Homo sapiens: one gene and its partner. The protein of the gene in region 2 purifies or fractionates together with the protein of the main gene of each other region. This does not show direct contact. Each region holds a gene or a part of one and is shown on either strand. Other genes may lie near its edges. The genes, in order: TMEM131L and ICOSLG.

Evidence for each region.
Region 1: the proteins of ICOSLG (region 2) and TMEM131L purify together in Homo sapiens (affinity purification with mass spectrometry; one large-scale study listed by BioGRID and IntAct). This does not show direct contact.

The regions. Positions count from the first base shown.
Region 1 is NC_000004.12:153,630,260-153,633,999, reverse strand, and holds part of TMEM131L (transmembrane protein 131-like isoform 1 precursor), read right to left. Parts: intron 1,283-3,740; coding exon 1,162-1,282; intron 1-1,161.
Region 2 is NC_000021.9:44,234,423-44,238,236, reverse strand, and holds part of ICOSLG (ICOS ligand isoform a precursor), read left to right. Parts: intron 1-1,019; coding exon 1,020-1,370; intron 1,371-2,674; coding exon 2,675-2,965; intron 2,966-3,814. UniProt on the Homo sapiens protein: Ligand for the T-cell-specific cell surface receptor ICOS. Acts as a costimulatory signal for T-cell proliferation and cytokine secretion. Also induces B-cell proliferation and differentiation into plasma cells.

The DNA of each region.
Region 1 (3,740 bases), on a different chromosome or scaffold from region 2:
CAGGATGGACGGCTGGACTAGGAGCACACTTGTTTTTAACTATGCTTGTTAAGTCTAACTAGAGACAGAATAGAGAGCCGTGGCTTTATCAGCACTGTGAAAGAACAGCTGGAATACCTTTAAGTGTCTTTGTGCACATCTGAAGGACTTAAACATGTTCCATTAAAAACGTCCACTCAGAGCAAGACCAGCATTCATCTTAGACAAGCATAACTATAAAGACTATACTTCATTATACTTTGATCCCTATTGCAACCTAGATTCTTATTATAGAAATGAGATAGGAAATACTGTTGTAATAAGCTGAACCAAGAAAACCATCAAATGGATTCTGTGATTAAATATCTAACATTTTCTTAAGACTCCCTAATAGAATGACATATTAATGTCAAATAGCAAATTTGAGAAACTGCCATTGTGTAACTATTTTTCAATATTCAAATTATTTGATCTTTTAAAACTTTAAATTTGGGCCAGGTGTATTGGCTCATGCCTATAATACCAACACTTCGGGAGGTCAAGGCAGGAGGATAGCTTGAGACCAAGAGTTCAAGAGCAGCCTAGGCAACAAAGCAAGATCCTGTCTCTACAAAAAAAAAAAAAAAAAAATTAAAAATTAGACCAGCATGGTGGCACACACCTGTAGTCCCAGTTACTTGAGAGGCTGAGGCAGGAGAACCGCTTGAACCCAGGAGTTCAAGGCTGCAGTGAGCTATAATTGCACCACTGCGCTCCAGCCTGGGCGACAGAGCAAGACTCTGTCTCTAAAAAATAAATAAACAAACGAATAAATACAACGTTAAACGTGTTCAAGAATAATGCCACAGAAAAATGAACAGCTTTGCTCTGCTAGCAGTTAGGAATTATGAGTGTTTTTTTTTCAAATCTGCCTCTAATATATGAAAAAATCGTCTTTTTTAAAGACGTTTTTAAAAAATAACGACACTGTCACCAGCTTTCTTTCTTTTATTTCATGTTTCTCTCAATGCCTGGTTTAGTCCCAGTGCAACTCTAAAAGGCAGAAGGAAACGCACAGCTAAAGTACACCAAGGAAGAAGCCTAGCCTTCATTTTTGTAAGGAAACCCTAAGAAACTGAACTCAAATTCCAACTGCAAGCCCTTAGACTAAGCAAGGCACCAATCAGAGAAGTGAAGCTGTACCTATTATGAACCGGGGCCGACTCCTGAATCACACAAGGCACGCCGTTCTCCAGGGTGCAGTTTAAGCTGCTTGTCACACACACTGGCGGAGTGGGCCACAGGTCTCCAGGTGAGTAAAGACCTACGGAAGAGAACAAGGCCTGAGTCCACCCTATCCTCACCTGGCCCTCATCCTACCCTTCCTGCACCTGCCCTTCCCTCCAGAAAACACTCCCTAATGTCACCCACACATGCTGACTAACTCCTTTCGGAATATAATTTCAGGATATAATTCTGAAATACAGCATATTGTTTTGACCGTTTCTTCAGACAGTGTCCGATTGTCTCTTGACCTGGATGACAAGATGAGACTCACATAACAAATATTTGAGGAACTACTTTCTGCAAGGCCCCATTAAAGATACTGAGGATACAGCAGTGAACAAGCTACATTCAAGTGAGCAAAGACAAACAACAAACAAAGTGTAGCATGCCAGATAATGTGCGTGCCATGATGGCAAATACAGCATTTTTTTTTGGGTGGGGGGAGGGATGGTCTCACTCTGTTGCCCAGGCTGGAGTGCAGTGGTGGCATCTTGGTTCACTGCAACCTCTACCTCCCAGGTTCAAGTGATTCTCATGCCTCAGCCTCCTGCGTAACTGGGACTATAGGCACACACCACCATGCCCAGCTAATTTTTATATTTTTAGTAGAGACAGGGTTTCACCATGTTGACCAGGCTGCTCTCAAACTCCTGGCCTCAACTGATCCACTGCCTCGGCCTCCCAAAGTGTTGGGATTACAGGCGTGAGCCACCACGCCTGGCCAAATACAATGATTTAAGATAGGATGGTCAAAGGCCTCACTGAGAAAACAGCTCCTCAAAGACGTGATTGACGTGAGGAAGTGAGTCCAGTGGGTACAGGGAAGCACATTCCAGGCAGCAGAAACAGTACCACAAAAGCCCTGAAGCAAGGTGTGCCTGGGGAGTTCAAACAGCAAGGATATCAGTGTAGCCAGGAAGGAGAGGGGAAAGTGGAAGAGTAGGGGATGAGGCTATAGAGAGCGGATTGGGAGCAGAGAAGACAGAGCCTGTGGGCCCCTTGAAGAATTTAGGCATTTACTTTGAAGCTACTGGAAGGTTTTGAGCAGAGTTGACTTCTTGGACACAAGTCTCTAGGGATCTCTCCCATTTCTGCCAGAGGCACTGGCAACCTTTCTCCTGGACTATCTTTTCATAGATGTTTGCTAAGCAAAAGCCTCGGAACATATAGTGTCTCTTTCTGGAGCAAAGGGCAGGCATGCTTGTTGCCTATTATAAAAGCTTTGGGGTCCCAAAGCTCAGGGTTCTTCTCCTGTAGCACAACCCACTGTGTGTGGCATCCATCTAGGGCTGTCTGAGTCACCCCTATATTAGATATTAGATATTCTGTGATTAAATATCCCCATGGGGCTCAGGGGAACTCATGCAAAGAGGCTGGTGCTCATGCAGTGGGCTTGCCCCACCTATATTTCAGCTTTATGTGGAAAAATGGCAGGTACCCCTCTAGGGAAACTTTATCCCCCACTCTGCACCTGAAGTGAAGTTGTTGGCTCAGTGGGCCCTCAATTCCCAAGGGCTCCCTTAAATGCCTGGGCCTGGCTCACTGATGGCTGGATCAGGCTGAAATCAGACAGCATCTACTGGGAGGCTGCAGCTGTCCCACCTCAATGCCCACCATGCAGAACTGAAAAGGACCACAACCATTTTGATCAGTGGGCAGAACCCAAAGTGGTTCTCACAGCTCTGGCTAATTCTGCCCTGAAGAAACCCTGCTAGGTGTAAACAACTCTCAGGCTATTGCCAATGGTTTAGGTGCTTGGTCTGCCACTTGGGAAGCAACAGATGGGCAGATTGAAGACACTGTTCTCCAGGGCTCTGAAATGTGAAAATGGATCTTGGCTTCTGATTAAACCTTACAGCCAGTCAAGATAGAGGTCCTTGGTAAGGGTATGTTCTCCACTGCGGCCAGCTGGAATCAAGATACTGATCAGGTCTGCATCACCCAGGCTGCCATTGTTGTTGCCTGGGTGCATCATTGCCCCAGACATGGCAACACTTCCAGCATCACACAACGGGCACACAGTAGGCTTCCTGGAAGGATAACTGGTTCACGCACATCCTATGGGCAGTAATCACTAGGAAGGAGCTATCCAGTTAGAAATGGCTGGTATGGAATTTGCTGATACTAGCTGAAGTGACTGAAGACAGCACCTGGTCCCTGGAAGGCATTTGGATCAGCCTCAACTCACTGGCCGTGGTTGTTACAGATGACAGAATGGCTCCAGATGTTCTCCTTGCAGGCCAAGGTGCAGTCTATGCAATCACTAACACATCCTGCTGTACCTGGAGTAATGCCTCTGGCCAAGTGGAGAGATCAACACAGAAACTTAAAGAGAAAGCCATCTGGCTCTCTAAGGTAGACCCTGGTGGTCTGTGGGATTTGTTCAGCTGGTTGGGTCTGAGACTCTAGGGCATGGCTGAGGTCAATACTGCAAAGTGGCCTCATCCTGCTGCGTAGGCTCCTGTGGACAGCCGCTGTTAATAAATGTATGAGAC
Region 2 (3,814 bases):
AGTTCTTGTTTGACTCCGTCTTTGTTGCGGGCAGAATGCAGTTCCTCTGAGCCAGGGCTTCCTGGGTCCCCTGGTCTCCCTGTCCCAGGCAGCAGCCCTGCTGAGCCCTAAGAGCCACCAGCCTCTGGAAGAGCCAGGAATAAGGACGAAGCACCGCAGCACAAACCTGAAACCTTGCCAAGCCTTCCAGCCCAGAGGGCTTTGGGGGCAGGGGACACACACAGATTTTCCTGCAGGTGCCAGGTGCAGTGGCTCACTCCTGTAATCCCAGGACTTTGGGAGGCCAAGGCGGGTGGATCACCTGAGGTCAGGAGTTCGAGACCAGGCTGGCCAACATAGTGAAGCCCGATCTCTACTAAAAATACAAAAAATTAGCTGGGCATGGTGGCGGGCACCTGTAATCCCAGCTACTTGGGAGGGTGAGGCAGGAGAATGGCGTGAACCCCAGAGTCGGGGGTTGCAGTGAGCTGAGATCACGCCATTGCACCCCAGCCTGGGTGACGGAGCAAGACTCCATCTCAAAAAAAAAGATTTTCCCACAGGCATTTACGTAGCTGCACAAACAGTAAAGCTACCCTGTGTCTGCCACATTTGTGACAGCTTTCCTACTGCAAGTGAGCAGCAATATAATGTAATTGCTGAGAAATTCTTTTCCCTTAAATGCCTTTCCCTTAAAGAACTTTTTATTGTGCATTAATTATAGACTCCCGAGAAGTAGTAAAAGTAGTGCTGAGTAACAAAAATAACACTGAGCGGCCAGGCCCCATCCAGCCGCTCCTCCCCATGGCAGCCCCTTACATAACAGGAGTGTGTCATCGAAGCCAAAGACTGACATGGACCTCACCATGAAATGTCTGCGTTTTTCAAGTTTGACTGCATTCCTACATGTGCCTTGTTAATAAATTCTGAGCCACCGTTGGTGTTTGAGGCTTGAAACCCAAAGTCTGCCCCATAGAGTAGCTTCATGGCCTGGGCATCAGCCTCCGAAAACAGATTTTGCACCTTTTGGGCCATTGCAGATACTCAGGAGAAGGAAGTCAGAGCGATGGTAGGCAGCGACGTGGAGCTCAGCTGCGCTTGCCCTGAAGGAAGCCGTTTTGATTTAAATGATGTTTACGTATATTGGCAAACCAGTGAGTCGAAAACCGTGGTGACCTACCACATCCCACAGAACAGCTCCTTGGAAAACGTGGACAGCCGCTACCGGAACCGAGCCCTGATGTCACCGGCCGGCATGCTGCGGGGCGACTTCTCCCTGCGCTTGTTCAACGTCACCCCCCAGGACGAGCAGAAGTTTCACTGCCTGGTGTTGAGCCAATCCCTGGGATTCCAGGAGGTTTTGAGCGTTGAGGTTACACTGCATGTGGCAGGTAGGACCATCGAGGCGGGGAGAGCTAGGTCCATCCCAGCCTCACATCGTGGACAAGTGTTCATGAAACCCCCTCCCTGGCTCATTCACTGTTTCTTCCAGTGAAGAAAATTCTCATCTGTGTTATCAGGCTTCTGTCTAACTTCGAGGGAAACTAAACAGCTGAAAAATCCTTAGTGCATGACCTGCGGCTGCTTGGTTTCCCGGAAGAGCTCCTACCCTTGCTGTCTTTGCCTCTTGAGTTAGTTAGCTTTTGTTTTTGTTTTTGTTTTTTGAGACGGAGTCTCGCTCTGTCACCCAGGCTGCAGTGCAGTGGCACAATCTTGGCTCACCGCAACCCCCGCCTCCTGGGTTCAAGCAATTCTCCACAGCCTCCCGAGTAGCTGGGACTACAGGCGCGTGCCACCACACCCAGCTAATTTTTGTATTTTTAGTAGAGACAGGGTTTCACCATGTTGGCCAGGCTGGTCTCAAATTCCTGGCCTCGTGATCCGCCCGCCTCAGCCTCCCAAAGTGCTGGGATTACAGGTGTGAGCCACCGCGCCTGGCCAATTAGTTTGTTTTTTGAGACAGGGTCTCACTGTTGCCCAGGCTGGAGTGCAGTAGCGTGATCACGCTGCAGCCTTGACCTCCTGAGCTCAAGCAATTCTCCTGCTTCAGCCTCCTGAGTATCTGGGACTACAGGCACATGCCACCTCGCCTGGCTAATTTTGATTATTTGTAGAAATGGGGTCTCACTATGTTGCCCAGGCTGGTCTCAAACTCCTGGACACAAGCGATCCTCCTGCCTCACCCTCCCAAAGTGCTGTGATTACAGGCGTGAGCCACCACATCCAAACTAGAGTTTTAAAAGTGAAATTTGAAGGGAACTCTATAAAGCACTAAATGAGAACAAAATTTAAGAGAAAAATAAGAGGCAACCAAGGAGCTCTGGGCAGTTCATTGGGGAGAACAGCTGTGTCCATTTCAGATGGACTGTGAGCCCCTGTGTCAGCAGTGAGAATGACCAGATCCAAATGAGGGGGTCCCGGCACAGCCGACGGCTGTGGAGTGGGGGGTCTGTGGGTGCCAGTCACTGCCCGACAGGCTCAGCGGTCCCTGGCTACTGGGACTGGCTTGGGGGATGACTCTTGGGCAGGACAGGGCGGAGCCTGCTGCTCGGACCACAGCCCTGGTCCTGGCCTGTCACCCATGTCGGGGCACAATGGGCCGCCTCCCCTCTGACCCAGCCTTGGCACCGTGTACCCTCTGTTTCTTGACCAGCAGGGTCTGGCATCTCTCACAATCTGTTTCCCTCCCCTGCAGCAAACTTCAGCGTGCCCGTCGTCAGCGCCCCCCACAGCCCCTCCCAGGATGAGCTCACCTTCACGTGTACATCCATAAACGGCTACCCCAGGCCCAACGTGTACTGGATCAATAAGACGGACAACAGCCTGCTGGACCAGGCTCTGCAGAATGACACCGTCTTCTTGAACATGCGGGGCTTGTATGACGTGGTCAGCGTGCTGAGGATCGCACGGACCCCCAGCGTGAACATTGGCTGCTGCATAGAGAACGTGCTTCTGCAGCAGAACCTGACTGTCGGCAGCCAGACAGGTAAGGTCCCGGCGCCTGCGTGCTGAGCTGTGCCCGACAGTGGGGCCAGGGCTGGCTTGGGAGAGCCTCTGAGGTAGGAGACAAAAAGTCCCTTCGACGCGGCTCAGCACCCGAAAGGTGGTTGGAAGGGAGGGGAGGTGAGAGGCACATGCCGCACAGTGAGAACCACCGCGGTCTCTGGGAACAGGAATGGGTGCCGTGCCCAGTGCATATTGCTCCATTTTCTTCACCTGGAGTCGGTTTTCTTAAACCTACTTTACAGATGAGGGCTGAACTCTGAGGCTGGGTAACACTTCAGAAGCCGCAGCACTAGGCAGCAGCAGCCCAGAACAGAAGCCCACAGCTGTGCAGCCCCCACCCAAGCTCCCTGCCTCTTGGGCGTGTGTCCCCTGAGAAGACTGAAGCCCCCAGACACGGGAATCCCACTGCGCACGGCTGCTGGCCCAGCCCCTCCCTGTGGAAGGGGTGCCCTGTGGAAGGGGTTCCTCTACGGGGACTCCTTTGTAGAGGACACAGGCCCTCCCCATTTGTGTCCCCATCTCCTGTGTCAGGATGAGAGGCAGAAGATGGAGGCAGGAGATGATCGAGGAGGGGTCCTGGGGCCCTGCTGGCTGCAGGAAAGGGGCTGCCAGCAGGACTCACCGTGTGGCCCTGGGCAAAGCAAGAATGCAGGGCTCCTTGTTTCGGGAGCATTAAGAATTCCAGACAGTGACCACAAGCATTGCACCTCCTGCCGGCCTTTCTGAGCTCAACCCCAGAAGCCTGCACAGGTCATACCCTCGAAGTCCACCCTGGCCGCCAGGATCCCCGGCAGAGCCGGACCTTCTCCTTCTTGAAATCAGGGCTCAG